Regions from separate parts of the Homo sapiens genome. Here region 1 is linked to region 2. A link means that fine-mapping ties the variant in region 2 to the plasma level of a protein whose gene starts in the linked region. Region 2 holds a variant in brackets. A gene starts in the other region. All regions are shown on their reverse strands.

What was found. A credible set is the group of variants that fine-mapping cannot tell apart. PIP is the posterior inclusion probability: the model's chance that the variant is causal. The UK Biobank Pharma Proteomics Project read protein levels with antibody pairs (Olink). The fine-mapping took linkage between variants from a reference panel, not from the people measured, so its PIPs are less certain.
Region 1: SCGB3A2 starts here. The variant in region 2 is the best candidate, but not a certain one, in a credible set for the plasma level of the SCGB3A2 protein (UK Biobank, PIP 0.62).

The regions. Positions count from the first base shown.
Region 1 is chr5:147,873,644-147,888,921 of GRCh38, reverse strand. It overlaps SCGB3A2 (secretoglobin family 3A member 2), which reads right to left and starts at 10,211. Exons shown (of 3, transcript NM_054023.5): 1 at 10,064-10,211; 2 at 7,274-7,476; 3 at 6,731-6,895. The coding sequence starts at 10,118. The coding sequence ends at 6,872. It also overlaps a transcript of C5orf46 not described here. RefSeq lists enhancers at 13,379-14,044, 14,045-14,712, 14,713-15,278.
Region 2 is chr15:50,012,749-50,028,026 of GRCh38, reverse strand. All of the region lies in intron 6 of ATP8B4 (ATPase phospholipid transporting 8B4 (putative)), which reads left to right. Among named protein-coding and RNA genes, the nearest start is that of ATP8B4, 99 kb to the left of the region's middle. The variant A/C (reference allele first, on the strand shown) is at 7,756.

The DNA.
Region 1 (15,278 bases), not on the chromosome of region 2:
CAGCATATAAGTAATTTTCTAAACTTATAACTGATGTACAAAAACTGCATGCATTTAAAGTATACACTTAAAGAATTTAAACATATGCATATACTCCCAAAACCACACAATTTAAATACTGAACAATCTTGGAGCTCACAAATAAGTGGGAGATACAAAAAATCATCAGATAATCCTACATAAACCTATAATTACATTTTGAGAGACTTGCTTGGGAAGGAAGGAAGATGGTTCTCTTGGAAGCTGTCACAGATGTGTATCAACTGGGTGAAGGAAGGTTCCTAAGGAAGGGAGACATGTGCTGAGATCTCAAAAGAGAAATAATAAAGTGGTTGAATAGGACAAAATTCATAAGGCAATGAAGGAGAAGAGGCATTTATAGTTGAGTGAATGGCATTTGCAAAAGCCCTGTGCTAGGTATACTGTTCTCTAGCCATGAAGAAACGTCAAGGTGGCTGGAAAGCAAATAAGAAGGAAGAAAGTAAGTCTTACAGGACCTCATAGGTTATGGTCAGGATTTTATTCTTAAATCCAAGAACAATGGAAAGCCACCAAAGGATTTTGAGCATTGGAACACATATGATCATTGTTGCATTTTAAAAATATCAGTTGGCTGTTGTGCAGGCTAGACAGAGGGGTCCAGAGTAAAGCAAGAAGCCAGCCAAAAGCTCTTGAGCAAGGGAGGGTCAATGCAGACAGAACCATGTGGAAGGATTCAAGAGAATATTAAGACATTAGGTTGACAGGACATGGTGATTAGTTCTACATGACGTGTCAGGGAGAGGGAAGTATCAGGAATGACTCGTAGGAGTCTGACTAATGCAAGTGGATATGGTTGCATATGCAGTGTTGCCACTCAGGTATATGGAGAACATTGGATACAAAATTTCCCAAGGCTTTTCTGGGCTCTTAGGATAAATACAGGGCCATGACCATGACACCTAATGCATGGTTTGACCTTGGCTTGTGTCCCTGTGCTCCTGCTGCCACCTGTGCACTGAAACACAGGTGATGTTTCAGTTCTTTGAAGAAGCCAAGTTCTCCTTATCCTCAGGATATTCATGCACTTAGTACCTTCCACACAGAATATTATTTGGTTAAGATGGGTTCTTCCAACCTCAAGTCCCAACTTGGCATGTCCATAGAAATGACCTAAAATAAACAGGCAATCTCTTGTCACTGTGACCTTTCTTAGGATCCTATTCTTTTCCTTTATTGTTATTATCATAACTTATAATTATCCTTTTACCCATGTTTATTTGTGTGGTTTCTATCTCTCCCTTTACACTGTGAAATCTATGGAGATATGGGTCATGACAATTTATTACTGTATGCTTCCTGTCCAGCAAAGATCCTGCAACTAATATTCAATAATTATTTGCTGAATCGAAAATATATGGAGGAAACAATGAATGACCAATAGCTATCACTGTTATTATGGTCATTGTCAGTATCAGAAAACAAGTTCTCATTTGATAATGAGAGAGTTAAGGACAGAACAAAGAATGCACCATTTAACAATGCTTGAAATGAAGTCAGAGGTAGTTACTAGAAAGGGGGAGCATCAGGTAGTTGCCATTTAGTTGTGAATCCCCAGTGAAAAATTTAATGCAATAGAAGGTGCTGATATTTCTCATTATCTACCTTGCATATATACACAAATGTTTTCCTTGATTTTGCTAATAATGAGCGCCCTCTGCTGTCTTTAATCTGCCTCAATAGCCTGCGAGCTCTTCATCTGGTTGCTTTCTAAAATAAAAAATAATGTAGCAAATAAATTGTACTTACCTGTCTGGTTGTACTGCCTATCTTAGACATGAAACTAAGAAATCATATAATTCATACCTTGCATGGCTTGACCCTCCAGCACATAATAAAAAGGGATTTACAGCTAGCTTAGGGAGAACAATCATACCCTAGGCATTGTCTTGGGTCCCTAATCCCATCTTTGGAAATGGCACTTCTCCGACCTCAGTCACCTGAGATACCAACTGTTCTTCCCCATTGAAATGTGTGACTAGTTATCAAAATTTTAGACACCATGTAATTCTGGACCTTGCATTTCCACTTTCAAGGTTTTTCTGAAGACATAAAGACAAAAATGTATGCAAAATATGCATGCTCACTATAGCACTTTTTATAATAACAAAAAATATAATTAGATATTAGAAACAATATAATATACATTATATAAATTAAATTAATATTCACATAGATAACAATTTAAATAAGGCATATGTCATTCATATGTGCAATGTATCATTCATGTATGTTTGTAAATATTTAGAAAATGTCTTGAAAAAAGCACATCAATGTGAACAGTGGTTTCCTCTAATTTGTGGAATTTATGGATGAAGAGAATGAAAGTTACATATATGCATATATGTAACTACAGTTATACATAATTATAGTTGTATATAATTATATATAACATGTTAATTATATTCCATATGATTATATGATAATTATATGTATATATTTCTATATTCTGATGATCTTTAAAATAATTTTTAAACTTTTTAAGATAACTATAGATTCACATGAAGTTTTAAGAAATCATACAGAGCAATCCAGCATATTTTCTACCAAGTTTCCTCCAATGGTAGTATCTTGCAAAACTATGCTGCTACATCAAAACCAGTATGCTGACATTGATACAGGTAAAACACAGAATATTTCTGTCCTCATAAGGATCTCTCATACAGCTCTTATATAACACACTCACTTCCTTCCTGCCCCCATCGTCTCCTTAACCCCTGGAAATTACAAATTTGTTCTTTATTTCTATAATTTTGTCATTTTGAGAATGTTACATAAATAAAAGTATACAAAATTTAACCTTTGGGGTTTGACATTTTTTCACTCAGCATAATTCTCTAAGGATGCATCCAGGTTACTGTGTATATAAATAGTTTGTTCTCCTTTTTTGTTGAATAGTATTTCTTTACAAAGATGTCCAAAATTTATCCATTCATCCACTGAAGAACAACTGTGTTGTTTCCAGTTTTTGGCTACTAAAATAAAATTGTTATGACCATTTGTGTACAGGTTTTTGCATAAATATAAGTTTTTGTTTCTCTGGGATAAATGCCCAAGAGTACAATTGCTGGGTTTTATGGTAGTTGCATGTTTAGTTTTTTAACAAAATGTCAAACTATTTTACCAGAGTAGCTGTACTGTTTTACTTTCACACCAGCAATGTGTGAGTGATCCAGCTTGTCTACATCCTCACCAGCATTTGGTGTTGTCACTTTTATGATAATGTTTATCATCAGTTTCTGCCTGCCTTCCCAAACATAATTTGTCCCCAGATTCCTTCTTAATCCCTCTGTTTGATACACCCCTGGAAAAAAAACCTTCCAACCCAGTAAACTGTCAGATTACTGCTATTACTCAGAGTACAATGGCAGAGAACTTTATCCCCAATCTTTTCCATTTAATACCTTAGTGAAGACATAGAGAGGCATCCTTCTCAAATATGCAAAACACTGGGAGAGAGAGAGCAATGAAAGGCTTAATAATATGACTAGTGGAACAAAACAAAGGGGCCAACCCAATCAGATACAACTTAACAGAAACAATCCCATTTATTCAACAGAACCAACACCGACTATCTTCAGGCTCTGTGCGATGTGCTGAGGATACAGACATGTACATTAGAGTCACTAACCATTTAACTTGACAGTCTAGAAAAGAGACTTTGAAATAAGTATGAAAACAAATACGTTTAAACTTATATTATTAATGTGTCTATTGATTTAACATAGTGTCTGACTCTTTTTTTTTCAATCAGCATTAAAAAACTATGGATGAATTTGAAGTTGGGGAATAATTCCTGTATTTTAGGAAGTCTCCTTCTGTGTATGGATGATGGATTAGAAGGGGACCTTTGGGAATACAAAAGTCACTTGAGAGATTAACACAGTAGTTTGAAGGGAAATGACAAGATCTGCAGCTGGGAACAGTGGCTCATGCCTCTAATCCCAGCACTCTGGGAAGCTGAGGCAGGAGGATCGCTTGTGCCCAGGAGTTCAAGACTAGCCTGGGCAACATGGTATCTAAAAAAATACAAAAAACATTAGCCAGGCATGATGGTATGTGCCTATAGTCCTAGCTACTCAGGAGGCTGAGGTGGGAGGATCACCTGAACCCAGGAGGTCCAGGCTGCAGTGAGCTGTGATGGCACTATAGCACTTCAAAAAAAGAAAAGAAAGAAAGAAAGAAGAGAGAGAGAGAGAGAAAGAAAGAAAAAAGAAAGAAGAAAGAAAGAAAGTAAGTTTTAGGAACAGTACCAGTGGTGATCATGAAAAATGTGTGCAATAGTTGTGAAAAGGGTTGATAAGGCTTGCTTACCAATCAGAAAGGAGGCTGATGACAGAGAGTACTTAGGATTATTCCCAAGTTTCTGTCTCAGGCAACCACTAAAATGTCTGTGCTGTAAACTGAATAGCAAATTAAAACATAGGAGTGGGTTTTGAAAGAGAGACAATGAGTTCAGGTAAAAATGTTTGAGTTGAACCTAAAAAAGAGCATCCCTTGGAGGTGTCTTATAGGTAACTAAATCTCTTCTTTAAAAAAAAAAAAAAGGTATAGATTGTAGCCATAGATTTTAGAGTTCCTAACATAAAGATTATATTGGCGTCCATGGTAGTACATAAGATTCTCCAATAAAGGTTATACACAGAGTAAAAATAGAAGGGGAATCAAGTTTAGTATCTTTGGAGGTATCAATGTCCAAGGGAAGTCAAAAATAATAAGGGCCATTTAAAGAAACTGAAAAATAGTGGTCAAATAGCAGAAAACTAAGGTAGGCGGAAAGATGGCATGTAATTCAATAGAAAAGAAAATTGCAAGTATGAGAGTCATCTAAGGTGACAATTACTTTGAAGTCATCAAGTAATGTGGTCAATTACATTACATTAATCATATTTGGCACTGCTCTTTCCTATAGGATAATTATACATCCCCTTCCTAAAGAAGTCAAACATGGTCAAATGACTTGCTCTGGCCAATTAAACATGATTGGAAGTCATATACTTCACTTTTAAGAAGAAGCTTTAAGAGTTAGCTCATTGTTCACCAAGTTCTCTTTCCCTGTAAACATAAGCAAAATGCACAAGAGAGACTATTCCATCAGCTCCTGTATAGAATTCATAAAACATTGATCATAGCTACAGCCAACCAAAGATGGCCACATACTGTGAGGAACAAGTGACACACTGTGCACGTAAGCCACTGAGATTTGGGATTATTTATTACTGCAGCTGGGCAACCTAATCTATCATTATAGGCATAGGTAAAATAAGGAAATAAAGTAGGAAATTTCACAGAGTGAAAGCTATTTTAGTTGCCAAAAAATGGAAGTCAAGCAATGGAAGGAAATTAAGATAATATCCCTAGAGATAACATTTAACATCATCTTAGTCAGAAACCAATTAAGAAACAGAAACTACTCAAAGTACTTACAACAGAAGGAATGTAATGCAAAGAATTGATTGAATAGACATTAGAAGAGCTAAAAGTCAAGTAGGTGATGGTAAGGCACCCAGAAACTGACAACAGGAGGAAACCACTAACTTCAGCTGGAGAGAAAAAGAAAGGAGGTGGTGTAACCAGAGCCCAGAGGCTGGACTCACCCAGCAAAAGCTGGGACCAAGGCAGGCCTATCTAGCAGGACCTGGAGCTCAGACGTGGTACAGTCATTTCCAGAGACTTCTCCCTAATACAGAGCCAGAAAGGGTCATACAATAGTTTTCCTCTTTTCCTACTTCCTATCTACTGCCTGCGCCTCCCAGGGGCAGAACCTAGCCCAAATGTCAGCTGATTTGGGAACCTGAGAAATGCAAGCTGCAGCAATCAGTATCATGTTTCCTGTCCTGCCTCAACACACAGCAGAGCAGAGCAGAGCAGAACAGGGGAAGTGGAGGAAATGGACCTGACAGCAAACAGTCCAAAGACTGACACAGGCCAGGTCTGAAGGTCGATGGTGGCAGACATTCTAGGTAGGAAGAAACTTGATTTTTCATTAAGGTGTAAGAGTGTTAGAGGGAAAAGGATTTAGTTATCTGTTCAGTGTGGCTGGAGTAGAGCGCATGTGAAGAAAGGAATGTAGATAAGAAGACTAGACGTGTAACCAAAAGCCAGATCATGAACAGCCTTGCATGCCATGCTCAGAAGCTTGAAATCTGCTCTACAGGCCGTCATGATATTACCAGAATAATTCCTTGGAAAGATAATTCTGTCATCACTGTAGATGACAGAGTAAAGGAAAGAAAAGATAGTTCATCACCCATTTGCCTAAGGATGATGTAGTAAAGGCCTAACTTGGTGGAAGGATTGGTGAAAGCTATTGAGTGGCCATAGCTTAACTACAAACTTAAGAACTAGCATTCTAGTGAAACAGAAGCCAAACCAATGAAGTTAGTAAGATGCTAGTCTTATCAGACAATATTTTGAAAATTATTTTTTCATTTTTTAAATGTAAAAATTTATTTAGGATGGGGGATAGGAAAGTGAAGGGTCTGAAAACACCGTGAGATAAAACATTTGGGAAAAATAGAGATGTTTAAATTAGAGATAAGGAAAGGAGAAGGAATGATTATGTCTTACTTAAGATTCCAGGTTTTCTTTATAAAAACAGGCTCTCTCGAGTTTATGAACCAAGGGAAAACTAATCTGGATACGTCCTTCTGAATAGAGTCCCCAGAAATAAAAATAGGACGACTGAAAATGTATTCATTGCTTTATTTGTCCTTTTCACGGGTCACTACATTTTAGGGCATTTGATCTATAATTGGTAGAACAGGTTTCAGGCAGGGAGGATAGGAGCATCATCTTCCATCCCCATCCACCTCCGCTCTTTATCTTGATGTCACACCAAGTGTGATAGCGCCTCCTGAAATGTAGAAGGACAACAAAATTTAGAGCAGCTTACATGTAATTCGCATGTTTCAAAACATATTCACTTCCAGTGTCCTGTTTGGCCACTATTTTACTGATGGGGAAACAAAAACTCAGAGTGATTACGTCTCATCCAAAATCACGAAGGTGGTAAATGGTATTGTCACAACTATAACACATGTCACTATCATTCAAAAACCCTTCCCAGAAATGTAGAAATTGTATTTTTCCTGAGATTCCAGGATGTGCAAACTTCCTATGAATATAATCAGTAAAGTGGAAATGCACATTTACAAGGGACAAGAAGAGGAGCTAGACATTCAGGGTGAGTATGCCTCCCCTTTGGCAGATTAGCCTCCCAAGCTGTGGTTACCAGCAGTTTCTTCACAGCTTCAGAAGCCTCTGGTCCCAGCTCATTTACACACTTCCTTAGCCCCTCCACAAGGTGCTCAACAGAAATGCCCAGAGTTTTCAGAAGAAGCTTTAATGGATCCATAAAGGGAAGAATGTTGTCCAGAGGTAAAGGTGCCAACTTGTCAACAGGAAGGGGCACTTTGTTGATGAGGAAGGCAGTAGCTGCAGGAAAAAGAGAAACCAGGTGAGACAGGCACATCTGGGCCCAGACTATGACCTCATCTTCTTTCCCTGTGTCCATCAATAGCTCCATTCCAGATCCACTCATCTTACTTCCATTGAAAACTTCTACCTCTGGCCCTTTGCACCTGCTGTTCCATCTCCCTAGAACTTTTTTTCCTTAGCTAGCTACTTACCTTTCTTTCTCACATTATTTGGTCTCTCTTCAAATATTACCTCCTCGGAGAAGCCTGCAATGGCCATAGTCACTCTCCGTCATTTATTTTTTCTTACCATTACCTAAAAAAAGCAACTCTTCATTTGCTGTTTTTATTGTCTTTATTTTCTCATTAGAATGGAGGCTCCATGAGAACAAGGAATGTGTGTTTTTTCGCTAATGCACCCATGCCTACAACTGACCCTGGCAGCGTAAGCATTCAACAGATCATTGTGATTGTCTGAAGGCGATGGTATTTTGTATGTGACTGTCTCCACAGCTCACAGCTTTGAGGCTAAAGGAGAGATGCTATAGTGAATCTCCACATAAAGACAGGAATGGACCCAACCACAGCCCAAGAAACTGCTCCCAACCAATTCAACTCAACGCTACAAACATAATTGAGCACCAACTCTATCTAGTCTGTGCAGATACATAGACAAATAAGACAAGGATGCCCATTCAGAGACTTCACACAGTCCAGTTGGTGATAGAAGATCTGTGTATGCCACAGTGTAGCATGTGCTATGCTAACATTATGGACAAAGCTCCATGGAAACACAAGAAAGGGATGACTAATTCTAACATGAAAGAGTGCTGCAGGAATTTTCCAGAAGTGCTGTTAGAGCTATGTCTTGAGGCAAATGTCAGGATCATAAGGTAAAGAAGAGGAGAAGCATTTTAGAAACATGACCAATAAAGGCACGGAACCATTAGGATAAAAGTGCATACACAGGATGGTGAGCCTTCTGCCCAGAAGGCTGGAGTGCAGATTTCCAATAGGCTATGACCAAAGGATGGAAGATAAAGGGAGTGAGGCTGCAAAAGTTGAGTGAGGTCAGATTTTTTAAAGTGTTGGATGTCACACAAAGGAGTTTGGATTTTTTTTTCCTGAGGGCAGTGGGGCGCTATCAAGGCTTTTACATAGGAAAATTACGTTTTATATCTTTGGCTTTAGGAAGATAACTTTCCCGTAGAAGATGAATGGTGGGAAAAAGTAGAGATTGAGGAAAATATGTACGATGTATTTTTTACAAAAACATGTGCAGATATATAAATGCACACATGCATGTGAGCACACACGTAAGAACACACATCCTCCTACTGGCTAAGACCTGCCATAGTTTATTTTCCTTTGGAAACCTATTATTTCCCCATTCAAATTATTAAAATGGAGCCTGTATATATTTTTTTAAATTTTCAATCACCTATTGTCCCTCCAAAATTCTCACCCAGAGGGGGCGGTATTTATTTTCCCCACCTCCTTTCTGCTGCCACTTTGCCCATAGATACCTGTCCCTGGACATTAGAGAACAGTGAAATATCCAAAACTGGTGAAGTTACAAATTCCTTCAGAAATTCAATAAACATCAAAAGCCAAAGTTGCCATTGTAGGTGTGGGCGGCAATCAATTTTTCATTATTAATCTCCATACTTCTTATTTCAGACATTTTGGTAAATATCTTCTCTGTATGTGTTTACAGCTTCCTGGGAGAAGATCTTCAAAGCCTTCTGTTCTCTCAATGAGCAGTGGCTATCATGAAATCTCTTTTTCCCATGTGCCCACACTGTCTTCCTGATAGTTACAATGATTCCTTCCAAAAAAATAAATCAGTTCCCATTCTCCTCCAAGAAGCCAGCTTCTATACCCTTACCTGAAAATTAAACTAATCACCCACCAATACACTAAAAGAGTTCTATCTGGATATCTCACAGTACGTTTACAGTAGTCTAGAATTATAGTAACTTAGGCAGAAGCCCTATCTATCCTACCAGAGTAGCACCTTAAGAACAATATTTATGACTGCTTCATGTCTAAATCTTCCAATGCCTATCCAGTGCCCAACAAATTGTAGCCATTCAATAAATATCCATTGAGTGGATAAACAGATGAATGTAGCTATCTCAGGAGAACCAAGCTAGCAAATTGGATAACTGGAGATGATAGCAAGAATGACTCCATATAGTTCAAAAGCACAAAAGAAATTATAAAGTCAAATTTTAACTCAAAATTGAGGAAAATAAGAAAAACGAATGGTGACCAATATCCAGCAGTGAAATGTGCTTTGTTGACCCTCCGTGGAAGTTGGCTAACTTCCTATGTAGGATGTATTAGAATACTTATATTGGGCTAGAGCTTAGATGGTGGGGATCTGAAATACTTTCCAACATCACCATTTTCTGTGATTCCAAAACTTCTTCCAACCCTGCAAATATGTGCAATTATTATGTGTCAGTTAAAAGTAAAATAAAAAAAAATACAATTCCTACCACCATATTCCACTGTCAGTGAGGCAAGGCTTACTAGTTGTGCTCTTATTAACAGAAAAGTAAAGAAATGTCACATATTCCAGATGTATTCCAGTTACTTACCAGAGTAACTACAAAGGCTGATGGTCACCAGCAGGAAGATAGTTACCAGCTTCATGACAGTTATCTGGGATATTTTTCAGGAGTTTAAAAATCAGAAAAATCTAGCAAAATCCACCAAGCCAGTGGTTCCACTTGCCATACAAAGTGTGATGGCTGCTTTTGCACACACATATTTATATGCCCATTGAGGACCTGAATTCTAGTCCCTACCACTTGACTCACCCCACCAAAGAAAGGGATAAATGTTATGTTTTCTCACCAAACAATTTGGAGGGTTTTCCACTTCCCCGTGTGTTCCCATGAGAAACAAAGCTCTACAGTACAGCATTCTCAAGTACCTCTTGCATAAACCCTTGCACAGAAATAAAAGCAGAAGGCAAAGAGCCCAACGAATCCTTCTCCTGGAAGAACATTGAAAAGAAGTGAAGAATTTATATTTGGATTAGAAGGAGTGTTTTCCTCTGGTTTTCTACATTTTTCCCCAGTTTTCTAATCATTTAAAGTTTGGAGAATCACATTAGCTGATGAACTACCCAGTTGTGAAAGCAATCTGGAGGCCACTCTGGTATAATACAGAGTCAGCTTCATGACATTTAGTGCCACATTTCTCTGGAATTCACCTGCCCCCAGCCCACTCACACATCTACTATGGTAAGATTTTCACACCTCTGTTACCTTTTCCAGTGTCAGTTACTTTGAGTATGTTCAGAGCATGTCTTCTCTGAGCCTTTGGATAGAATAATAGGCTTAAGATCTAAAATCAGAGTGTCTTTTGAAAAACCTGGGATTCAATTTTCACTGTTTGTGTAATCTTGGATTTGACATTTTTAATCTAGGATATTGGTCCTCTCATCTAAAATGGGAACATAAATAACACAACCAACCATAAGGTGTGTAGCTTGGGGAAAAAATTGTTTTTGCAAGATTCTTTGGCAATCAAATCCGATAAAATCATTCAAAAATACGTAATTGTAAGGTACTGGCTACAGGAGTAGTAATTTGTTTCCAAGGCTGTCTTTCTGGATCCAGGGTTCAGCCACAGGACCTCAGGACAACTTCATTTGTGAGCAGAAGTCCTGGAGTTCTTTGGGGCATCGAGTGGGCCCGACATGCAAGGAAGAGGGTAAGAAAGAACCATGAAGGGGTGAAATAGAAAGCGGAGTCCATATGGGCACAGGACCAGCTCAGGGCTCCCCGGCCACGTGGTACTGCTGGCTCCAGCCATTCCCACCACCAAAGTGGAACCCAGAAAATTTTGAGAAAACACACCTTAAGATGTAAGGCCAGAGGTTGGGGCTTTATTTGTCCTCATCTGAGGGTGTGGTATTGTAATGAAGATCTAATAAAATTATGCAGACAGAGCATTCTGCTATGCCAAACCAAAATTAATATCTAATTTATGTCACATTTTACTAATTTTTATGTTACCATGTTGTAACTGTCATTTCTTTATCTTTCTGCTACTTTATAAACTACTTTATAAACTACATGAAAGACACCATGAATGCCTGCCATGCACCTCAATCCTGCCACTTCTCCTTCTTTCTCTACCAGTACTGCTTCCATTTCTCCCACATATTCCCACTGATGCCAGTGATATTAATATACCAAGCCCCTCAAAGAGCCAAGGTTGGTGGTAAGATTGATGCCGTTGCCGGAGGAACAGGGTCCAGCTGCTTGCTCTCGTGGTCCAATGATGAGATACAGGTGAACTGGGAAAGAAGCGAGTTTATTTTTGTAACCAGCCACAGGGAGAAGGTCGGAGTAATTTACCAGACCAACTAAAAGTTATGAGTTTTTCCTTTAGTATATATAAATGAATTTCAAGCTCTATGCCTATATGCAGGAGTATTTCTACTTAGCCTAAATCTAATCTTTAACTAGTGGTCTGTGGGCTGGAAAGTTTCTTAATTTTACATGGGTCCTGGTATGGTTTGTATGTGCATGAATGCTTTTATCACTCAATCAGGTTTGAGGATGAGAAAGCCCAGGTAGGGTCTTAACGGGTTTGTTTCTGCATTCCAGGTCTCCTACTCAGGCACCAGTTTCTCTAGTTCTTCAATGTTTAACTTACACATTCATCATTACAGCAAAGGGCTTATGGAGACTTGGTTGCTTGTGGAGATCCAGCCTGCCACAATGACGCCCTTTAGTTTTTTATTATGGTCTCTTTTGGAATACTAAACCAGTGCTGCCCTCAAATTTGTTTGCTTGCTTTTAAATCCTTTCTCTTCACTTTCATTCCTGGCTCTGTATTATAGAAAGTTGACTTTTTAAAATGTGGTTTCCAGGCTTCCTTGCTTCCAGGCTTCCTTGCCAACTGCATCTGATTAAGTTAAGCCAGGGGAAGGCACAGGTGAAAGAGTGGAGAGAGAGAGAAAAGGAGAAGGGATATGTCTCCCTCTCTCCAATTCAGGAGCTATCATGGGTAGTGGCTGCACCCTCTCCAAGGCTCATCTCCTTTTGGAAAGGTCCTTTATCTGTGGTTCCCCCTGTGCCACACAGGCCAACATTGTTCCAGCTTTTACTGCATGGCCCCAGCTCCTAGACCCCACCTTCTCATCACTGTCCTTCCTGACCTAGAAGGAGTAACAACTTTCTGCATTTTCTAATCTCAGAGTTGATTCATCTTCTGCTTGGTTGCTTTAACTGCATTTCTAGCACTTTGTAAATTACCCTACATGTTGAATTCTTTCTGTGTGGTCACTTGGTATGGTTTTAACTTTTTGGCTGGACTCTGACTGACACAGCATCCTAAAATATTGTAGCGCTTTCAATAAAAAATAGGTTTTCCAGTTTCTAAACTGACTTCTTATAAAAGCCAAGTTATAAATCCATGAGGGATAGGACCGAGGCCTCCTCAGGTGAAATATAGCATTATACATGCAGAAATGCTTCTCTCTTTTAACCTCTGAAATGATTGGTACTGTATCAGGCTTCTCTGCTGGTCCTAGAGGGCAAGTTCTTTCCAGGAGATTCCTGAGACCCCTGGGCAAATAGATTTCTGTTGGGTCTATCTAGTAGTCAGCCAGCCATGCAGTCTTGACTGGAATGTACATGAAAAACATCAACTCAAAAGCACCCACAAATATCCACATACATATACATATATGAATAGTAGTATGTATGTGTGTGTACATGCAAATCATATTATGCATACACAGATAACCATCAAACACTATTGTTTTCACTCATTTGTTCAACAAATGTTTATTGAGTATCCATTGTGTCTCAGGCACTGTGTCAGCAATTAGGACTAGTGCAGAAAACCAGACAAGCAAATTTCTTGCCTTCCTGGAGCTGACAATGTAGTGAGATACACAGGCAAGAAACATGTAAACAAACAGAAAACACTAGTGGTTAGTGCTGTTGAAGAAGCAAATAGAAAGCTGTGAAAGACAACAAGTGGATTGGGGGTATGCTCAGAATTGAAAACATACTTGGACTTGTTCACTTCTGGGCTTCCTATGTTTTGAGCCACTGTATTAATCATGTCTTTTAATTCTGTATTTTTAACGTTTTGACCCCTTGGGGCCTTGCTGACCTTGAAAGGACTGCCCTTCCCAGGACTAGCTAATTCCTAGAGATATCACCAGGAGCATGCCTTTCATATGCAAATTAACCAATCCAGAGCCCAAAGCCCCAACGACCTTTATTGGGCTTGTGCACTGTGGGCCATTATTCCCATGCCTTAATCACCCCATGACCAACTAGGGACAGCCCCAAGATCCCAGAGCCCACCAAAATTATTCACACTAGCCCATTTAAAACCTGCTTACCCCATCTCTCCTGTCTTCCTTCAGAAACCACAATAAAGACTCCTGCTCACATTTTCCTCCACTCCATCTGTCTCTTGAATAACCCTGGTGCTTCCCGTGTGCCTCCAGCCCCATGGTGTGTCATGGCCCCTTGTATTGGGATCTGAGCACACTAAAATCTCTTTTCAACAGCAGTCAACTCCTGATCTGTTCACAAGAAGAATAGAATCTACATTTTAAAACAGCCATGTAGCCTTTTCTTGTGCCTTTGTTATGGTATTGTTACTGTAACCACTCAATAGATTCACCTTGCCTGCTGCCTAGACAGAGCCAATGTATGAAGACAGGGGAATTGCAATAGAGACAGAGTTATTCACTTAGAGCTGGCTGTGGAGGAGACTGGAGTTTTATTATTACTGAAATCAGTCTCCTCCGGCATTCAAGGATCAGAGTTTTTAAGGATAACTTGGTGGGTGAGGGGCCAGTGAGTCAGGAGTGCTGATTGGTTAGGTTGGAGATGAAACCAGAGTTGAAGCTGCCCTGTTGCACTGAGTCAACTCCTGGGTGGGGCTACTGTCAGGCCTCTGAGCCCAAGCCAAGCCATCGTATCCCCTGTGACTTGCACGTATAAGCCCAGATGGCCTGAAGTAACTGAAGAATCACAAAAGAAGTGAATATGCCCTGCCCCACCTTAACTGATGACATTCCACCACAAAAGAAGTGTAAATGGCCAGTCCTTGCCTTAAGTGATGACATTACCTTGTGAAATTCCTTCTCTTGACTCATCCTGGCTCAAAAAGCACCCACTGAGCACCTTGCCACCCCCACTCCTACCCGCCAGAGAACAAACTCCCTTTAACTGTAATTTTCCTTTACCTACCCAAATCCTATAAAACGGCCCCACCCTTATCTCCCTTCGCTGACTCTCTTTTCGGACTCAGCCCGCCTGCACCCAGGTGAAATAAACAGCCATGTTGCTCACACAAAGCCTGTTTGGTGGTCTCTTCACACGGACGCGCATGAAATTTGGTGCCATGACTCGGATCGGGGGACCTCCCTTAGGAGATCAATCCCCTGTCCTCCTGCTCTTTGCTCCGTGAGAAAGATCCACCTACCATCTCAGGTCCTCAGACCAACCAGCCCAAGAAACATCTCACCAATTTCAAATCCGGTAAGCGGCCTCTTTTTACTCTCTTCTCCAACCTCCCTCACTATCCCTCAACCTCTTTCTCCTTTCAATCTTGGCGCCACACTTCAGTCTCTCCCTTATCTTAATTTCAATTCCTTTCATTTTCTGGTAGAGACAAAAGAGACATGTTTTATCCGTGAACCCAAAACTCCGGCACCGGTCACCGACTGGGAAGGCAGCCTTCCCTTGGTGTTTAATCATTGCAGGGACGCCTCTCTGATTTTACACTCACGTTTCAAGGGTGTCAGACCACGCAGGGACGCCTGCC
Region 2 (15,278 bases):
GAGAAAGAATAGATTTTGAAGATGTGAAGAAAGTTGATGGTATTTTCTAATGGAGAATACAGTAAGTCCTCACTTAACATTGCTGATAGGTTCTTGGAAACTGTGACTTCAAGTGAAACAGTATACAGTAGGTCCTCAAATAACGTTGTTGAGTTCAAAGTCATTTCATTATAGCATGGGTGAGGAAAAACTTGATTTTGTTACATTTCATTACACTTAAAATCATAGTTTTCGAGGACCTATCCACGACGTTAAGTGAGAACTTACTGTCTATGGTGCAATAAAGTACATTTTCCATAAGCTTAGCATTCCTTCACAATAAACACTTACTGGATTTTAAATTTGCTTAATGTCCAGTGTTCAGTCCAGTATGATGGAGTTGCAGGGGGAAAGAAAAAAGTTAAGTATTGAGAAATGGAATTGAGTTTGGAGAGGGCTTCATGGAGGAGAGCACACAAACAGCAGTGGAGATTTAAGGGGCTCTGTTGGCAACGGGACGAATTTCATTCAGATAATCTAGCTGGCTCAGTGTCAATCAGCATGTACTAGGGCTTCCTCAGGGATATGATAGAGGTTTTATAGGAACATTGAGAGTAGCAGCAGGGATTCATGTTTTCCATCCATCCATCCATCCATCCATCCATCCACCCATCCATCCCATATTTAAATAACACTTCTGAGTACCAGCCACTGTGCTAGATGCTACGGACACATGGACTATTAGGACCCATGTCACTGCCCTCAAGGAGTCTGGGGTCTAGGGGAAGAGATGGACAAATAAACAGACTCTTATTTGACAGCAGTAGGTGCAAGGAAGTATGAGGTGCTCCAGGTGCACTGGGTGCTTTGGGTGCACACATATGGGGTAGGGATGGCTAATACTAGTTTTGGAGGGCTAGTGGCAGGGATTTCATTGTCTCAGAATAACCCTTGATAGAATTGGCCCCCCAGCAAAGGTCAGCCATTGAACAGCTAATGGAATGGTGGGGTGAGAGGGTGGGGAGAGCATTGGAGAACCCAGGAACAGTTCAGGCCATAGAGGATTACTAGGTCTTTACAGGCTTATTGAAGAGGGAGGCTGAGAATATGCTGGATGAAAAATGAGCCCAAATCCACCATCTCCTGTCCCTCCAGTTATGTGCTCTGGTGCAATGTGGTCCGTCACAAGTACCATCTTCATATGCAGGCTACTCATTGTAAGACTCTTGGGCAACACAGCAGTGAGAACCTCTGTTGTCTTTCTACCCCACAAGGCAGGAAGGCATTGGGAAAAGTCCACTAGCCTGGTGTCAGGAGGCTGAGGTTCAGTCCTGCTCTGTCATGAATTGGCTACATGACTGAGGACCAAGGACTTGAGTTTTCTCATCTATGAAACAAAGATATTGGATACCAGTCATTTTCAAACATTTCTTTTTCCAATAAGCAGAACCCTTTTCAAATGAAATCTTATGTATAGTGCAGTTGCTCAGAGCAGGTGCTCTCGGCTGCCCTCTCACCCTTTATGGTAGATCTTGAGGAGCCTCCACAAGCATCACAGCACTGGTCAGTACTTCTGCACATGAGGTCTGAGGACCACCTGCATCTGAATCACCCAGGTGCAGATTCCTGGGCTCTTTCCCGGACCTCTTGAATCAAACTTTTTGGGTCTGGGACTGAGGACTCTATTTTTAATGAGCACTTCATGGGATTCTCATGTACATTGAAGTTTGAGTACCACTAGGCCAGATATTTCAAGGTTCCTCTCAGGCTTTAAGTACAGTGACTCTGTGATCCTCTTCAGCTTTGGTGTGATGGTGAGGAGCCAAAGAAGGGGAGTCAGTGACTCCACCTGATAAAAAGATTTAACAGCAAATGGAATATTGAAAGTATGAGGATGGATTTGATAGTAATAGTAGTAGAGATGACAGTGGAACAAGGAGGGTAGGATCTGAAAGTTACAAAATGGATTAGGTAAGGAAGAAGAACTTTAATCATCGGGTCTTCCAACAGTGGAGATAAATTGTATTCCAGATGGAAGAAATTGTAGCAAAAGGTGTCAGGAGACAATTCAAAGCATGAGGCTACTAGGGTAATGTCCTGATCATATTCCCACCATCTTTCTTTGTCTTGATAATAGCACTCTATTATATCATGACACATAGTATCATAATGGTCTCCTTACCTTTCATTTACTTGTCAATCTTTATTGAGTGAATCCTGTGTGCCAGGCATTGAGCTATATTCTGCAAATGCAGGTCAACCCAAACAGACATGTTCTCTGCAATCACAGAGCTTAGTGTCTGGTCAGGGAAGTAGATAATAAAATAGCCATGCTAAGTAGTGTATAATTACAAACCAAGGCAAATGCTGCTAAGGAAAAGAGTGTGGTTCTAAAGACAGGTATTTTTTTGTGGGGGTTGGTAGAGGTGAGGTGAAGCAGTTTAGGAATGGATTCTTTAAGGGAGTAGTACATTTGAGCTGAAAACATAATGATGACTAGGAGTTAACTAGGCAAAGGTGGTAATAGGAGTTGGAGCAATGGGATGAGAAGAATTCCAGAGGGAAAATCATGTGCAAAGGTCCTGTGGAGGGGAAGGAGGATGGTGATTATGAGGGACTGATTGGCAGAAGTCCAGAGAATAAGGCGGAGAGAAGAGCAGGGGCAGACAGGGCTGGAGAAGCCATCAGAGGCCAGACCCTGCAGGGCCTTCAAGGCTACATTAAGAGTTTGGGTCTTTTTCCTCATAACAGAGAGATTGTGTGGAAGGGTTTGTCTTTGGAAAATCTCATACCTGCTGCATGGGAAGAAGCTAATGCAGAGGGGTCAAGATAGATATGGGGAGAGGCTAATTGCCTATTGCTATACTTGTCTGTCTGTTCCTATTACTGCTGTGACTTACTTGAGGCTGAGACAATCTCCATATTCCCATGCAGTTGATACGCAATAATTACATGATAGTGGGCAAAATGCACTAAAGTGAATTAAATAAAGCCTCTTGGGGCAAAAGCAGAATATATTTTAGACTCCTCTTTTCTTCCCTGTAACTAATATGGGGCAAGGAGAAGTATTCATATATTGTGTGTTTGTGCACATCGCTGCTGGCTATCATTGCACTTGAGAGTGTGAGGTCCTCGGATACCAAGCCCATCTTTACCCTAGTGTTCTGTGTTATTGGGAGTCTCTTGGGCACTGCTGGAAATTAACATGTATGGGACAGTGTCTGACACTTAAGGAAAGGGAAGGATTTAGGTCTGCCTGGACTTCATTTCTTAATTAGCAGAGCTCAAGATATGATTTGAAGCAATGCTTACTGTTTCATTCGCAGCTGCCCCCAGGTTGCAGCAAGTTGGACAAGCAAAAATGTGACAGGCAGCCCTAGACACCCAGTGGAGAAGCAGAAATAGACTTGCTGGGGTTTGCAGTGGACGTTTCCCTTGCAGCGGCACTTTCTGAATTGCCTGGACGACGAAGAGTATTCACCCAGCTGTCCTCATCTGTTACCTTGCCCCTTTCCAGGCATTTATGTTCTTACATGCTTTCCCCTTTCACACTGCTAAATTTAAGGCTTCATTTTCAAATCAAATGCTCATCTGGCTGGCTGCCTGAGAAATCACATGTGGAGCACTGAGAGACCCAGGCAGGGGATGATGCCCTTGGTTTTGGAGAGTAGGTCTGGAAACCATATGAACTGTAAATAGTTTCAAAATGTGAAAAAAAATTTAAAGCTCTGCCAAAAGGGAAGAGCTGAGGTTTTTTTCTTTCTAGGCTCAGTTATTAAGTATCTGTTGGAAATAACCTACCTCTATCATAGAATCTGTTTACTCTCTCCGTCTGTCCAGGGTGGACAAATCCAGACTTAACCACTGTGAGAACTCAGCTCTGCAAATGCTTGCTTTATTAGAAATAAGTTTTGGGGTCACAGAACCATAGCTAAACTGCTAGATGCATAACTTTTATGGGAATTTACTTTTATTCATTTAATCCTTCCTTTGAAACTTGAGTGATAATATGTTAATATTTTTAAAAATAATAGAACCTAATTTTCCAGTAAGAATAAGACAAATAAAAAATGAGAAAAGGTACATGGCTTCCTTAATTTGCACCCCATCAGATAACTAATGTACTAGAGTATCACTTCTCATTTTGAGAAATATTTTTCAGCATATGTCCTATTTTCTTTATTAGTCTTTCTCTTTTTCACCTGATCCTTCATTATAGTTTTAAAAGGCTTTTTTTTTTTCTTTTTTTTCTTTTTTTTTTTTTTTTTGCCTTTGGTCTCAATTTTTTGTGGGTGCAGAGGTGAAGAGATGCTGTCATGCTTTCCACACTAGGTTACCAGGGACACCTTTCATTCTGTTTTGGTGGCTGTCTTTAGATTCTTTTTTCTTGCTTTCTCTGTATTCTAAATTTTGTCTTTGCTCTGTATCTCATTTCTTACTCTCTTTCTAAGGATGAAGAAGAAAGAACACTGGAATTGAGATAAAAAGAATGATAGGAAAACAATAAGCAACAGAGGCCCTATTAAATAGGGAGCATTTTAGAGTAATAGATGCCTAAAAATGTAGGGATTAGAGTTTATGCAAACAAATATGCAAAGGACTGTGGTATAAATGCTTATAATTGGCCTGCAGATTTGCTTGTGTTAAATTTCAAATCTGGTACTGATAATGTCAAACTAATAAAAGTTTTACCCAAATGTACCTAATTATGGTCACGATCCCTGGCACGAAATCTCCTGATTAACCAAATTGAAAATATCGTTCCCAGTAGTGGCTCTTGTGATTAAGAAAGGAATTCAGAAGAGAGAAGATTATTTATACATATATTTAGACATATTTTTACAGACTATAAATAAGACCATAAGGTCTTGAAACCCCTTGATCACTAGAAAGCAGAGAGGGCTTGGAGGAGTATGAGACCAGCCTGTCATTGCTATTAAGCAGAAAAACTTCATCCTGGAGCTGGGTGGAGCACATAACTTAGAGTGTTTCCCAGAAAGTAATTAAAAGGGCAACTTTCTGGCAGAAAGTTTTCATCTTCCTAATAGAGAAAAATGGAGTCTACTCCAGGCAAAAAATTATCATATAGATATATCCAGGGAGTAGAAAAACAACCTAGAGACTTTGGGGTTTGAGTAGTGCCAATGAATAATGAAGGGATTACATTAGAAGGTCTTTCTTATCCATCTCATTCCTAAAATATGAGAAATGCAACTGCCATTTGATATACCATCCCTGAGCCCAAGGCTTTCCCCTGTTCCAGGGACTTACTGTGGTCAGCGGGGCATGGGGAAACAGATTTAGGACCTTCACCAGAGGCCAGGTTTACCCAGACCTGACGGGTCTAGAAATAGAGGATTTTTTGGGGCACTCTAGTTCATGTCATAGGTTGGGCCAGGGGAGCGTGTCGCAGTTCCTGCTTACACTCTAATCCTATTGGCTTGAATTGGAAAAAGTGATAAGCCTCAATAATACAGCCAATTTTGTTGGGGTCATTTGATTTATTGTCCCAGCATTGTTAAGAGCAGACATAGCATGGGTGCTCTGAACCAGAGGAATCTTTAGGTCTATCTTATTTCTGCAGATAGTGAGTATCTCCCATGTGCCAAAGATGATTAACGTAGCATTTCTGTTTTCATAACTCACAGTTTGTAGGGCAGGGAGACAACCAAGTTTTTAGTTTCAATATAATGTATAGGAGGATGGATGTGTTGATGGACCTCAACGGAAGCACTAAAGAAGGGGTACTTAGGCCAGTCTGGGGAACAAAGGAGGCTTCTGAGAAGTGAGTTTTTATCTAAAATTTATCAACTAAAAATGTGAAAAACTCAGAAAAGTAAAAATGTCTACTTTTTAGGGAAATGTATTATCCCTTGTTGTTGCATTTTTTTGTGGCAAATATACATATATGCAAAAGAGCCCATGCAATATATGCAATTTTGCTTTCCACTTTTTTCCTTTGGAAAAAAGTTTTTATTTATTTCTTTTATTGTCTAAACTGATATCCTTTGCCTTACAATGATTCATCCTGTCCTTACCCTCTTTCCAGACTTTGTCATTAGCTTTGTTACACTTTCTTAGGGTCTTCCCAGGAGACATAGCCTTGTGAAACTATTACTCGTGTCAGCTCTAGAACTAAATATGCTATGCACACATTATGAGTGATCACATAAATAGCTAATCTGTTCAAATATTCCTTCACCAATATGTATTGAGCCCCTAATATGTGCCACGCACTCTCCTATGTACTAAGGATACAGAAATGAGGAGGCCAGATAAATCCCTGCCCTAGTGAACAACATTCTAGTGTGGAAGACACATAATAAACAAAATGTAAATAAATAATATAATTTCAAGTAGTTGTAAGTACAACAAAGAAAATGAAATAGGGGAATAGGATAGAGAGTGATGGGATGGGAGATGGGGAGATGATTTTAAAGACGGTGACCAGAGAAGGCCCCTTGAAGAGGTAATATTTGAACTGAGAGGCAGCTAGCCATGCCAAGATCTTGGGTAGAAGAAACAACAAGTATAAAAGCTCCAAGGTGGAAATGAACCTGACAGTAAGATGTCTACTGTGGCTAGAGTATTGTGATAAAGGGGAGTGCTGAAGGGCTGGCAAGAGCCAATTCCTAGAGGTAGTGATAGAGAATTCCAATTTTATGTTAAATGTAATGAGAAGCTACTGGAGGGTTTTCAGCAGGAAAATTATATGAACAATAAAAAGATTTCGCTGGCTTCTGTGTAGACAGTAGACAGCAGAGAGAGACAAGAGCAGAATGACGGTGACAAATTTTGTTTTCTACTCTTGTCCAGGTATGATGATGATGCCATGGACATGAGTGTTAGCAGTGAAGGACATAAACAGAAGTAGAATTATCTATCTATCTATCTATCTATCTATCTATCTATCTATCTATCTATCTATCATAATCACCATCACTCATGGATTTTCAGACACACATGCACACACAAATAGAACAGTACAATGAATCCTTTTCTATGTATTACATAGCTGCAGCAACTTGCTATTCTTGTATACTTGCATACTTCTTGCTATTTTGTATCAATTTTTATTATTTTATTTTCTGGGGTATTTTAAAAGCAAATCCTGTATGTCATATTCTGTTATCTATCAATACTTTAGTATTTATCTTGAACATATAAGGATTTACATATATTTAGCCATACTACCATTACTACATTTGACAAAATAGCAGTAGTACCTTAATAAATATCACCTAATAACCACAGACTGAGATGTATTTTGAGGGCAGAGGCAATATGTTGGTGTACTGGGTGGGTATGAAGAGAGGCATCAGGAAACCTAGTTGTTGGCTGAGGTTCCAAGATGGAGAAAACTGGGGAAGAAGCATGTGGTGGTGGTGGTGGTTTTCTGCCTGGTCTAGGAAACCAGAATTCTATCAAGATATTAGTCATTCTGTAGAGGAATGCATTACTGAAGCTTAGGGGAGAGGTGTGGGCTGAAGATATAATTTAAAAGTCATCACACTTTGGGAGGCTGAGGCGGGCAGATCACCTGAGGTCAGGAGTTTGAGACCAGCCTGGCCAACATGGTGAAACCCTGTCTCTACTAAAAATACAAAAAAATTAGCCAGGCATGGTGGTGGGCACCTGTAATCCCAGCTGCTTGGGAGGCTGAGGCAGGACAACTGCTTGAACCTGGGAAGTGGATGTTGCAGTGAGCCGAGACTGTGCCATTGCACTCCATCCTGCCCGGGCAACAAGAAAAACTCCATCTAAAAAAAAAAAAAA[A/C]CAAAAAACTCATCCAAGGCCTGTTGCAGTAGCCTATGCCTATAATCTCAGCACTTTGGGAGGCCAAGGCAAGCAGATCACTTGAGAGCAGAAATTTGAGACCAACCTGGGCAAATGGGCAAAACCCCATTTCTACTAAAAATATAAAAATTAGCCAGGCATGGTGGTGTGCACCTGCAGTTGCAGCTACTCAGGAGGCTGAGGAGGGAGGATTGATGCCTGGAAATTCAAGGCTGCAGCAAGCAGAGATCATGCCATGCACTCCAGTCTGGGCAACAGAGACCCTGTTTCAAAAAAAAAAAAGTCATTTGGCCACCTTGGATGAAGATTCTGGGCCCTACATAGTGGAGAGAGGAACTCTAGCTCTCAGGCACTCTAAAGTTTGAAGATGGGCAAAAGAGAAAGGGCTGGCTAAGTGTGTGAGAAGCAGTGACTAATGAAATAAGAGGAAAACTACTTGGATGTTCTGGAATTAAAACAAAGAAAAGGTTTGAAGAAAGAGGGGGTGGCCAACTGTGATAAATAAAGTGAAGACTGAGAACTGATCATTGGATTTAGTAACATACAGGATGACCAGAGAGATTGCAGTTGGAAGGATGGAGACAAAATCCTGATTGGAGAAAGCATGGACAGTCAAGAAGTAGAGAAAGTGAGTGCAGATAGCTCTTTTGAAGACTTGAAATCAAAATCAGAATGTACAATCCTTATAATGAGGTGCTTCATAATAATAAAAAATAGTCACAGTATTTTAAATGTATATATTATTTTACAGTTTACAAAATGCTTTAATGAATCTATTTCATCTGAAAGTAAAAAATGTCATGAAAGACAGGTGTTTAAATGTTAGGTGGGTTTGTGGCATTTCAAAGACCTCAGTTTTCTGAATAAAGACATTCTGAGGGGTTGATAAGAGCCGGTTTTGGTAGGTCATAGCAGAGAATTCCAGTCTCAATCAATATCTTGCCTGAAGGCTGGTTGGTTCTGAAGCTTTGACTCAAGTGCATGTTTTCCAGTTCTACAACATGTACTCTTCTACTATGCTACATCATTTCCTTCATAAACAAGGGGGCCAATATTCTCTTCTTTAAAGGTGTAAAATTTAAATTCCAATTTCTGGCCCATTCTCAACAGAATTTGGTTTCTGCAAGTGTCAAGATTGTTCCTAAAAAGTCATCCTCAAAGGACAGGGACAGAGTCTTACTATAAAATTTCCTGGTTTTTGTTTAAATGACCGATCAAGATTTGTCATTCATGGATTTACATTGACTCGAACTTTGTTTCTCCTCATAATGAAGGTGCTGAAGGTACAAAGCTGAGGGTTTAATGACAGGAAGTACTCTGGTAATTGTAAGGAAGAAGATTTATCCTGGTCCTGAGAAAAATGTAAGTGACATAATGGTCGAAGCTTCAGAGAGTAGAGATATTTTACCCATGATTATAAATAAATCCTGACTGAAATCTGTTGACGTGATGTTAAATTATGATTCTGAGAAGACAAGCCTAGAGGGACCAGAATAATACAGTCCAGGCATATAGTTTTCGGATGAGCTCACCATTTATGGGGACAAAGCTTGGAATATCTTGAGAAATGAAAGTTAATATATCCTTTATTAGACAATCTTTCTGGTCTATCAGTTTTCTCACTGGACTTTTGATGACAGCTATATGGCAAACAATCTAACACTGAGGTCATTCTGAAGTGCAGGTATTCTTCATTGTTGACGGGAAGATATCCATATACTCCGGGTATCAGAAGACAGAGATAGTTTAGTTGTGGTTATTTAAGAGCCAGACTTATATTTTTCCACTAGTCTTCAGGTTTTTTGATAACCACAGTCTGTATCTGATTCCACTTGCAGCTCTGACACTCAGCATGGTGTCTAGATTAGAGGGGTCATTTTGTACACATAAGAGTGGTCTTAAACTCATTAATGCAGGGTGATGATACCGCATATGCCAGTGATGAACTCATTAAGAATTCTAGGGCCAAGCTTGGTGGCTCATGCCTGTAATTCCAGCACTTTGGGAGGCTGAGGCGGGCAGATCACTTGAGGCCAGGAGTTCAAGACCAGCCTGGCCAACATGGCGAAACGCTGTCTCTACTAAAAATACAAAAATTAGCCAGGTGTGGTGATGCATGTCTGTAATCCCAGCTACTCAGGCTGCTGAGGCATGAGAATAGTTTGAACCCAGGAGGTCAAGGGTGCAGTGAGCCAAGATGGTGCCACTGCACTCCAGCCTGGATGACAGAGTGAGACTCCGTTTCAAAAAAAAAAAAAAGAAAAAAAAAGAATTCGACTTATGTGCTATCCCATTTTTGAGGAACTAGGGATGATAAACATTACAACTTATTTTGAAGTGACATCTTGAAATTTTCTTAAAAAGTTCTGGGACAGTATTACTGCAAACCTAATAAGTAAATCAACTCCTGATATTCCAGTGATACCTTTAATTGTACTTTGTGCTGTAAAATCAGAAATGCTATTTCCAGAATGTTAGGTTTTCTGGCCAGAACAAACCACATCACACCATTGAGCAACACTTTCGCTTTGTCTGTGTTGCTATGGCTTGTATTATTAGTTGACATGTAAGGCAGCCAATATTTTTTCTGGTTTAAGAGACATTAGGTTATCTCTTCACTTGGCTCTATATGGGCAAATTGATTGAGACTATCACTAGAGGCAATGAAAAAATATAACATAGGCCTTTTATCCTGGAACTAAGATATCCAGGTTTTCTTTTCCATTGGAAACTATCTTCTTTTGGGGTATTTGTTTTTTTCAAAAAGAGGATAATTATTTGCTATTAAGCTTAGTAAGAGTGAATTCTCTGATTTTTCAAAATAATATGTGGCCACTTAGATGAAGAAAATAGTTGATCTACTTGGGCTAAGGTGATTGTACATTTTTTAAATCAAAATATGTTCTTCATATAAGAAAGATTTCAGAAACAGTGATTTTTTCCTATAGACATTGTTCTTAGGATAGTTAGATAGTCGGTGGTTATCTGTAGAATATTTTTAATAGATAGGTACTAGAAATGTATCTCCCAACTTTATTGTACTGTTGGCAAAGGAGGTGAATCAGATGACCTAATATTTTACAGATTTGTTTTCCCCAGAAGTTTTAAACTTGGATTGGGGAAGCACAAAGATTCATGGCAGCTTGCCTGCATTAACTTTATAGTATTGAAATTGAAATGATAGAAAGGTGGAGCTTAGAATTAAAAAAGGAATATTGGTTCACACCTGTAATCTCAGCACTTTGGGAGGTTGAGGCGGGAAAATCACTTGAAGCCAGGAGTTCAAGACCAGCCTTGGCAACAAAGTGAGACCTCCCCTGCCCACTGCCCCTCAAGGGAATGTTATAAATACATGAAGATATTGATAGCAAAGCTGGGAATGGGCTCTCAGTTTGTAGTGGATGTTTTGCTGTGCCACCCACATCCCCCCTTAGGACTGCAGAACATATTTTCCCAGCTGTCAGGAGTGCTGCCCACATATAACCTTCAGCTGGCAGTCCTCTCTGGGAATTGCCCTTGGCTGACGAGAGTGTTTTCCTTAAGGACACTCCTCCTTTCTGGGGTCATCCTGCATCCAATGACTGAATCATGCCATGGTATAAAGTCCTGGTCCCCTTGATCCTATTGTAAAGGCCTGTTCCAGCTCCAGAGCTCCAGAGCTCTCCGTGGTCTTGGCTGTGGCTTTCATTGTGGCTACATCAACAGCCCAACTGCTCCCTCTGTCCAGCAGTGCTTCTTTCCTCTCTTACAGGTGTTAATCCCAAGAGAACTTGCCAATCAACCTCTTATACATAAAGCTCCCTCTAAATCTACTACCCAGGAATCCAACCTAGACCAATAGCTCTGTTTTCTCCATGGTCAATCTAAGATAGTTCCTCTAGCTTTCATAAGGGAGAACAGATGGAATTGTCTTTCTTTGAAATCATTTTCTTCTGAATTCCTGTGTCTTCATAATCTATAGCCATCTATTCACAGAATCCTACTAAGAATCTACAGAAGATAGAGTCTTAGGAGGCTCATTTGGGCAAGGGTTTCAGTTTAGGAAAATGATGAAAGAGAATACATTTCCTGTAAAACATTCAGCAGGCTTATTGTTCAGGTAAAACTTAGTGAGTTGATCATTTTGTTTTCAAAATAGGAAGACTAAATTGTGTGTCTATTTCTGCATCTGAATAATGCACAATAGGATTTATATAAATTAGGCAGGGCATCTGTAAGATTGATTACTTTTTCTCAGCAAATTGTTAAACTAAATTCTCCATGCTATAGCACTACATCTTTCATCATCTCTTATTTTCACCCTCCTCCCTGGCAAAATTGGTGAGAGAGCATCTTCAGCAGCTGACCAGAGACCTCCCTGTGTGATTTTGCCTCAGCATAAGCATTTTGCTAAGAAGAATGGAGGAAAAAGGGAAACATCTGCATTCTTTAAAATAAATAGATTCCAAAGATATGAGCGTTATGTTCATTCTCAACGTAGTGAGATCCTGTTCACCAGTCTGTTATTAGGGGATTAGGGCCAAGCTGTATGTTTTCCTCTAGCGCAGCTCTGATGGTACTGGGATTGAAAAGAACCAGAAACTGCTGCTGTCCACTGAGTGTTTGTGTCAGGGGATCATGATTGCAAGCTGTCTTTGGATCAACTGGTTTTAAATGCTGGGAGTGTGCACTGTTGCCATGATTGGGTCCTTTCAGCTCCTTAGGGTCCAATCTTTTTCTATATAGGTAATACATAATTACTCTGGGAAATAAAAAGCAACAATAAATATAGATGTATTAAGAGCATGGGCTTTGTAGCCAGACAAACTTGGGTTCTGGTCCCAGACCTGCCACTTATATGTGACCTTGGCCAAGTTTTCTTCTATTACTTCTTTCTGCTTCTATTCTTCTTTTCAGTTGGCCATTAAAATACTAATATGTGTAATGCCAAATAATTTAAACAGTACAAAAGAACGTAAAATGGAAACGAAGTCTCTCTTCCATCCCAATTTCCCTCTTCATTTTCTTTCTCTATTGTCAACCACAGTAGTTTCTTGTGTATCTTTCAAGAAATTTTCTATGCCTATAAAAATGTATAATATATCCTACATGCACTTACTTCTTTTTACATTTCCTAATAATGTAACTTACAGCATATTTCATATTAGCACATATAGACCTACCTTATCCTTTTCAGTGGCTGCACTATATTCCATTGAGTGAATGAACCATGATTAAGTAAGTGTTTCATTGTACATCTATCTAATTCCTATTGATGGACATTTTCGTGGCTTCTAATCAATTTCTGCTACAAATAATGCTGCAATAAATATCCTGGTACATTCATATTTGAGTACCTGTAGGATCAGTTTTCAAAGTGTGTGGTCATTTAAACTTTTGATAGATACTGCAAAATAAGGCAAAGATCTCAATTTCTATGAACCTCAGTGTCCTATTCTGTAAAATGGAAGTCAAAACAATACCTATCTCTAGGGCTGTTGTGAGGATTAAATGAGATAAGATACATGAATAGTGTTGCCAGATGTAGCAAATTAAAATATAAGACTCTATTTAAATTTGGATTTCAGATAAACAATAATAATGTTTTTGTATAAATGTGTCCCAAATATTTCATGGAATATATACTAAAAATAATTTGTTGTTTATCTGAAATTCAAATTTAATTGAGGTGTTATTTATTTTATTTGGCGCTCTATACATGAAGGGATCAGTACAGTCCCTGGAATGCAGTAAGCACTAAATAAACATGGGATGCTATAATTCTTATTAGACATTCAGGCAAATGCTATCATTCAGCAAATGTTTTTGGAAATAATGATTCTATACTCCTTAATTTATTTATCATTCATTCACTGCATACTTACTGAGTGCCTGCTGTGAACTAGGTATTATTCTAAGTCCTCAGGATGGAGTGGTGAACAAAAAAAGTGTATGAGCAAGGGAATACTTTTGAGTGTTATAAGGCTGACATGTACTTGAGATTAAAGAAGAAACCAAGCTCAGGGTTAAGTGGATTGATTGGTTAATTGGGGAGGTCAATTATATTGACCTTTATTATCTACTCTCTCTAGTACCCCAACACTTCTGTAGCTTGTGAGGAAATCCCCTTTTCAGGAATCCATGTTGCTGGTGGGAAATCAGGAGCATTAGAACATGGAAAGGATGACCTTGATGAACCCATTGAAAATCCCCTCTTTTGTTTCTCAAGCTTTAGCAATGCACTTGCAATATTGCTTCCAAAAGTGTTCCTTAAGGTCAACACTTGATTTTCAGCTTCTGAAAGCAATAGTCTAGTGACGTGGAGCATGATAGGTGCTACCTCACTCTCAGACTTGCATTTTCTCAAGGAGATTTTCAGTGAAGTCTAGCAGCTCTTAGTATGCTATGCCTCATCAGGAAGAAGCAGGTTCAGACCAGTTTATCAAAAATTATTAGTTGCAGTTGCTATCTCTTACCTCCTTTTCTTAGAACTCAGAGTTCTGAGAGTAGATATATAGTGGCATATTTTTAAAAAATTTGCTTCAAATAATTCTAGTTGCTGTTCTGTGGCAGTTAAACTCCGTATGTTTTATGGTGCCTTTGGAATCTAAATTTTATGAATTTTTTACTTGGATTTTGGCTTATTTAGCAATTGACTTGTGAGTTTGCTAAGGTAAAGGCTATCTTATTATCCCATATGTATTTAAAAAAACGGATTCTAAGAAGCATTAACTAGATTATGTCAGAGTTTTATACTCTGAAATAATTATATGATGCTGAAAATTGAGCCACATTTTAAAATCTTATAACTTCTCCTTTCTTTTCAGAATATTCATATACTGCAATTCATCTACAGGAGTTTTCACCTTTTGACAATGGCAAAAGCAAAGTTTGAAGGTGCTGAGTCTGTGGAGCCAGTGTCACCTTCACAGCCCAAAAGGCCATCCTATGTCCCCCTAGAAGAGCTATGGTGCAAGATTGCTTTAAACATGAACCCTGAGAACAGCTGCATCACACATGTAGAGCCAGGGAGTGTCTGCTTTCATGTTTCAAGTTGGTGACAAAACCCAATCACCATACAAGCTAAAATTTTAGAAGTCTAGAAATATTTTGAAGATGAGTTTTAAAGCAAATCATTTTGTCTGACCCTCCAGTTCTGCTGGGATTTTTTTTATGTATTATTGTCAGTGGTGGTGGTTGTAGGTAGGACAAGAAAAATGATTGGATTCAAAATATAGATTATTTAAATTTGTTTATAGGTCTTTATCAGTTTATGCTTATTCAGCAAGTTTGGGTACTTCTGTTGCTATGATCCTTAGTGCTCATTAGATGTATCTCTGAGTTCCTAGTTAAGTGCAGTTATATATATTAATATTTGCTAAGACAGAATAGGGGATAATGTAAAAACTCCTCTGATTGTATTGTACCCACTGATTGTTCTACAGGGATATATTCAAATCAGAGGTTAAGCAAGGCATCTCACACAGACTATGGTTTACCAATATCTCCAGGCTCTTTTTCTG